Homo sapiens: one gene and its partner. The protein of the gene in region 1 interacts with the protein of each later gene in a biochemical or structural test. Each region holds a gene or a part of one and is shown on either strand. Other genes may lie near its edges.

The links.
Region 2: the proteins of SKP2 (region 1) and USP18 form a complex in vitro, tested with the Homo sapiens proteins (one study listed by BioGRID).

What each region holds. Positions count from the first base shown.
Region 1 is NC_000005.10:36,169,111-36,172,610, reverse strand, and holds part of SKP2 (S-phase kinase-associated protein 2), read right to left. Parts: intron 2,268-3,500; coding exon 2,169-2,267; intron 1,009-2,168; coding exon 878-1,008; intron 1-877. UniProt on the Homo sapiens protein: Substrate recognition component of a SCF (SKP1-CUL1-F-box protein) E3 ubiquitin-protein ligase complex which mediates the ubiquitination and subsequent proteasomal degradation of target proteins involved in cell cycle progression, signal transduction and transcription.
Region 2 is NC_000022.11:18,153,170-18,156,669, reverse strand, and holds part of USP18 (ubl carboxyl-terminal hydrolase 18), read right to left. Parts: intron 1-3,500. UniProt on the Homo sapiens protein: Interferon-induced ISG15-specific protease that plays a crucial role for maintaining a proper balance of ISG15-conjugated proteins in cells. Regulates protein ISGylation by efficiently cleaving ISG15 conjugates linked via isopeptide bonds.

The sequences.
Region 1 (3,500 bases):
TAATAAACAAAACACACTCAAATAAGCTAGTACTAACATCAAGATATGGTTGATGTGTGTTGCTGGTTTAACTAGGTTTTGTAGAGCCCACAAACTGAATGTTGGCCTGAGACGGTGAAGCCATTTAAAAAACTTGCCATTTGTAATCACTTATCTTTGCAAATCAAGATTTTCTCATTAACATACAAGTAAAATAAAGCGTAACTGAATATTAAGGTTTTTAAAGACTGCTCCCTGCTACCTTTGACTTCTAATGCCTGTTTTCATCTAAAAATCCTCGTTGCCCTCTTGGACTGAATAAAAAGTAAAAGTCATAAATATGAACTTATTAACAGAGTTTATAATAGTTTTTCAACCTTGGAACTGATGTTTGGACCAGATTATTGTGCATGCTATTCTCCATCCTATACACCGTCCACCAGCATCCTGGCTTCCGCCCATGAGAGACCATCAGCACTCCTACAGCTGTGACAATAAAAAATGTCTCCAGACATTGACAAATGTCCCCGTACAGACAAAATAGCCCCTAATGAACAACCACTACTTAATACTAATCAAATGCTACATTTATGTATTTTTATGTTGGGGTTTACCTAACCATTTAGTTGATTAAAAGTTTTTCTGCTTAAAAATACATTGTTTTCAAGTGTAAAGGTTTCTACTGTTAGATCCTGAATTCAAACCTTGGCTCTAGCTCACTAGCTGTTTACCTTTACCTAACCATTCTGATTAGCAGCTACCTCATCTGAAAAAGGGGACTAACACATGCACTGGATTAAATGAGAAAACTTATGTGGAGGAATGATTAGGAGAAGCTCAATGAATCTCATCTATTATGTTGTGAAGGCCTCAGTGGTCCAGGCTTGGAAGCTCTAACCTGATTTCTGGAGATTCTTTCTGTAGCCGCTAAGATTCAGCTGGGTGATGGTCTCTGACACATGCGCAACAGCCACCTGTACATGCTTTTCAGTGAAATCAAAACACCAGGAGAGGTTCAGCTCATCCAGTCTGCACAAAAGAGGGGTAATAAACAAAATATGAAACCATCACACGGGAATGAGTTTGCCTCAAACTGCAAACAAAGAAAATATAAAACCATGGATTCCTTATCATTTCATGCACAGAACACCTGCTTCTCTAACAGTAGCTACCTTTAGTCACCTAAGTATACCCTGTTTGCCCCTGAAAGTTGCCAGGGGATCAGAAGGGCCTTAGTGAATGTGCCTCCTCCTCGAAATGGAGAGAAGCACCTGATGGCTCAAACCTTATTCCAGTACTGCAGGTAGAAATGCCAGTCTTTTATGTTTGCTTTCTCAAACTACCAACCACCCAACACAGACTGAACAATCACTCAGGATGTTTTACGCAATTGATGGATTGCACTGAGGATTCCTAATAAAGAGATGCTGATATTGCAAAAAGCCACTTCGTCTTACTGTGCTTCTGCTAACTGAGCAAAAACGAGGGTTTCAGAGACAAAATACAACCATTAATCCCCACTCCCCACTTCTGGCACTGCTGACTAAATATAGGGCTATACATTTGATCTCACTGATAACACGCATATCCAGAGGCAATCTATTTTAAATGGACCATTAACAAGACACAGATTCAAATGCTGTACCATGGAGACCAAGGGATATTTTTAAAAAACACACATATGCCTAGTACTGTGTATTCCAAAAAGCATGTACTCCCCTCACTTAGCAATATCTGTAACTCTGTACCCTTTATGTGCTGACATTATTATGAAAGATATTGTTAATAGAATTGCCCAAATTTACGGTCTATATTTATAAAACACCAAATTTGATAAAAAATTGTAAGTTAGGTCTACAGATACCATAGGGGAAAAAACCTGAATGTACAGTTAAGTGTGAGCAAATTTCTTACAACCATACTGTTGATAGACACTACTACACTTCCCTTATTTTAACAGTTCCAAATAAACAAAAAAGAGATCACTATACAAGTATCACTTGCAAACTCAATTGACTTGGCTCCTGAGTTTGGACAGAAAGTTAGGAGGGCAAAAGATTTTGCATTCACCAAATCAAGAGCCTGGAAAGTACAAAAAGCTCAAAAAGTTCATCCCATTTTATACAGATGTGAGGGATAATTTTACGTTTGACATAAGAGTCTATAATCAAGTCTCACATCTTTCATACCTGGAACAGCTGCTTAGCAAAGTCTGCAGGGCAAATTCAGAGAATCCAGAACACCCAGAAAGGTTAAGTCGCACTAAATTTGAGTTTTTTGCGAGAGTACTGGAAAAAGAGAAAAACGTCAGAAGAAAAAGACCAGTAAGACACTATTCATCAACAACATTTAGATGAAAGCAGGCGAGTGTAGTTAAGCTCACAGGTCTTTGAGTCAGTGAGTTTAAAATGTATATCACTATCTCTCAGACATCAAACAGGATAATTTGCCTCAGTTTACTCATTTGTGAAATGGTATTATCAAACTTCTTGGCAGAGTTATTAAGAAGATTAAATGATATAATGTAATAAAAGACTTACTATGAAGCAAATACACAAGAATATCAATCAATGTACTTTTTGAATTAAAAAGACAATGGAATAAACATATATCCATTTCACCCATAATTAGAATTAGCTTGCAAACATCTACTTGTAAAATCACCAGGTTCTTTTGATTATACATCTCTCAAATTTGCCATCTTCTCTAATACATCCCCAAATGCCCTGTGTTAGTAAAACTTAGTGATTAAGAGTAAGAATTCTGGAATATTGTATCACTAGGTTCACATGTTGGTTCAGCCACCTACTAACAATGTGACCCTGGAAAAGACTTACTCAGTCTCCCTGTGTCTCAGTTTCCACAACTATAAAAAGGAAACAAGATCACACTTCATAGGGTTGCTGTCAGAATTAAATGAAAATGCATTTACAAAATTCACTATCTGGCACATAATACATGCCCCAAAACATTAGCTGCTATTACTGCTATCTGTTTTATATCAGACTTCACCTTTTCTCACTTGAACGAACACAGCAGTATCCTTAACTACTCTAGCTTCTTCTATCCTCGATGGACCCTCCATGGTACCTGGCAAGTTAATTTCCTAAATTTCAACTCTTGACTTGTTCCTTCCATTCTCAGAACAACTCTCTCCACCATCCTTCCCTTTTTTTATTTTTTTTTCAGATGGAGTTTTGCTCTTGTCACCTAGGCTGGAGTGCAATGTTGTGGTCTCAGCTCATGGCAACCTCCGCCTCCCGGGTTCAAGCGATTCTCCTGCCTCAGCCTCCTGAGTAGCTGGGATTACAGGTGCCTGCCACCACACCCAGCTAATTTTTGTATTTTTAGTAGAGACAGGATTTCACCATGTTGGCCAGGCTGGTCTCAAACTCCCAACCTCAGGTGATCTGCCCACCTTAGCCTCCCAAAGTGCTGGGATTACAGGTGTGAGCCACCACACCTGGCCCATGCTTCCCTCTTAATGGAAGAGTCCAGTCCATTCTTCTTACAGCAAGGCG
Region 2 (3,500 bases), on another chromosome or scaffold:
TTACAGCTCCTAATACGGCGCATCTGGAGATGTCCGTTCCTCCCGGTGGGTTCGTGGTGTCGCTGGCTTCAGGAGCGAAGCTGCGGACCTTCACGGTGAGTGTTACAGCTCTTAAGGCAGCGCGTCTGGAGTTGTTAGTCCCTCCTGGTTGGTTTGTGGTCTTGCTGGCTTCAGGAGTGAAGCTACAGACCTTCGCGGTGAGTGTTACAGTTCATAAAGGCAGTGTGGACCCAAAGAGTGAGCAGTAGCAAGACTTACTGCAAAGAATGAAACAACAAAGCTTCCACAGCATGGAAGGAAACCTGACCAGGTTGCCACTGCTGGCTCGGGCAGCCTGCTTTTATTCTCTTATCTGGCCCCACCCACATCCTGCTGATTGGTCCATTTTATAGACAGCCAATTGGTCTGTTTTACAGAGAGCTGATTGGTCCGTTTTGACAGGGTGCTGATGGGTGTGTTTACAATCCCTGAGCTAGACACAAAACGTCTCCACGTCCCCACTAGATTAGCTAGATACAGAGTGTGGACACAAAGGTTCTCCAAGTCCCCACCAGAGTAGCTAGATTCAGAGGGTCGACTGGTGCATTCACAAACCCTGAGCTAGACACAGGGTGCTGATTGGTGTGTTTACAAACCTTGAGCTAGATACAGAGTGCCGATTGGTATATTTACAATCCCTTAGCTAGACATAAAGATTCTCCAAGTCCCCACCAGACTCAGGAGCCCAGCTGGCTTCACCCAGTGGATCCCACACCTGGGCCGCAGGTGGAGCTGCCTGCCAGTCCCGCGCCGTGCGCCCGCACTCCTCAGCCCTTGGGTGGTCGGTGGGACTCGGCGGCGTGGAGCCGGGAGCGGCGCTGGTCGGGGAGGCTTGGTCCGCACAGGAGCCCATGGCTGCGGGGTGGGGAGGCTCAGGCATGGCGGGCTACAGGTCCCGAGCCCTGCCCTGCCAGGAGGCAGCTAAGGCCCGGCGAGAAATCGAGCACAGCAGCTGCTGGCCCAAGTGCTAAGCCCCTTACTGCCTGGGGCTTGCAGGCCGGCCGGCTGGCCGCTCCGAGTGCGGGCCCGCCGAGCCCACGCCCACTCGGAACTCGCGCTGGCCCACAAGCACCGCGTGCAGCCCCAGTTCCCGCCCCTGCCTCTCCCTCCACACCTCCCCGCAAGCTAAGGGAGCCCACTCCAGCCTCGGCCAGCCCAGGAAGGGGCTCCCACAGTGCAGCGGTGGGCTGAAGGGCTCCTCAAGCGTGGCCAGAGTGGGCGCCAAGGCCGAGGAGGCACCGAGAGCGAGCGAGGGCTGTGATGGCTGCCAGCACGCTGTCACCTGTCACCAGGACTAGGCTCACTACAGTAAAACCCAGTACTGGGCAGAGCCTCATCACCCTGATACTAGACCAGTACCCACAGGCAGATCTCACCCCACCCTAGTGCCAGATGAGAACCCACAGCCCCAGTAACAGGGACTGGCGATCTGGCCCACATCACTACCTGACAACTACAGTGGCCCTGGGCCCTGAATAACTTCAGCAGCAGCAAGCACGCCATCACAGCTGTGGGTCTTGGGCGTGCCCCAGTGCTGTGCCAGTCTCGGCAGCTATGGCCTTCAGGCATAACCCAGGGCTGTGTCAGCCTCAGTGGCCAAAGAATTCCAACCACAGTGATGCTGGGCTTAGAGCACCCCCCAGCACTACAACAGCTGAAGCAGTCATGGGCTTAGGGTCCTGACCAATCAGCCTCTCCCTAATCTCCTATGGGTTTCCTGATGAAAGACGAGCCCAAACAAAGCCAGGCAATGAAGACTGGCTTAGGTACCTATGTCAATGCACAGACATTGACACACAGCCATAAGGATCAAGGTCAATCAGAGAAACATGACATCACCAAATGAACAAATTAAGGTGCCAGTGACTAACCCTAAAGATATAGAGATGAGGCCTGGCATGGTGGCTCAGGCCTGTAATCCCAGCAGTTTGGGAGGCTGAGGTGGGAGGATCACTTGAGCCCAGGAGTTCAAGACTAGCCCGGGCAACATACTGAGACCCCATCTCTAAAAAAAAATTTAGATGGTCATAGTGGTGCACGCCTGTGGCCCCAAATACTGAGAAGGGTGAAGGAGGAGGATCACTTGAGGCCAGGAGTTTGAGGCTGCACTGAACTATGATTGTGCCACTACACTCCAGCCTGGGCAACAAATGAGACCTTGTATCTAAATAAATAAATAAGATGAAATAAAATAATAATAATGGGTAACATCGAAGCACTATTTCTTATAAAAGGTGAAAGCCTTTTATATGTACTGTCTTATTTATCCTTACACAGCCATGTGAATTAATTACTGTTATATTTCCATTTGACAGATGAGAAAACTGAGATACAAAGAAGTAAGTGCCTTTCCCACTGGCAAGTGATGGGCCAGATGTAGACAAGCTGGACGGGGTTTAAGTCCAGCTAACATGCTGCTCAGAGTGAGGAATAAACTCAACCAAATCATTGGTGGGAATGTAAATTAGTAGAGCCATTATGGAAAACAGTATGGAGATTCCTTAAAAACCTAAAAATAGATATACCACATGATCTAGTAATGCCACTGCTGAATATATATCCAAAGGAAAGGGAATCAGTATGTTGAAGAGATATTTGCACTCTCATGTTTACTGCAGCACTGCTCATAATACCCGAGATACGGAATCAACCTAAGTGTCTATCAAAAGAGGAATGGATAAAGAACATGTGGACTATATACACAAAATGGGATGTTATTCAGCCATTACAAGAGAATGAAATCCTGTAATTCCCATCAACATGGATGAGCCTGGAGTACATTACGTTAAGTGGAATAACCTAGGCACAGAAAGATAAATACCACATGTTCACACTCATATGTGAAAGCTCAAAAAGCTTATCTCCTAGAAATAGAGAATAGAAAGCCAGGCATGGCAGTTCACACCTGCAATCCCAGCACTTTGGTTGGCTGAGGCAAGAGGATAGCTTGAAGCCAGGAGTTCAAGACCAGTCTAGGCAACATAGCATGTTGCCTAAATAAAATAAAAAATATTTTATTTTCTAAAAATAAAAATAAAATTAGCCTAGCATGGTGGCATGTACTTGTGGTCCCAGCTACTTGGGAGACTGAGGCAGGAGAATCAGTTGAGCCCAGGAATTTGAGGCCACAGTGAGTTATGATCGTGCCACGGCACTCCAGCCTGGGCAACAGGGCAAGACCCTGTCTCCTTTTTTTTTTTTGAGATGGAATTTCACTCTTTTTACCCAGGCTGGAGTGCAGTGGTACAATCTCAGCTCACTGCAACCTCTGCCTCCCGAGTTCAAGCACTTCCCCTGCCTTAGTGTCCCAAATAGTTGGAACTACAGGCATGTGCCACCACGCATGGCTAATTTTTGTATTTTTAGTAGAGACGGGGTTTCACCATGTTGGCCAGGCTGGTCTTGAACTCCTGACCTCAGGTGATCCACCCATCTCGGCCTCCCAAAGTGCTGGGATTACA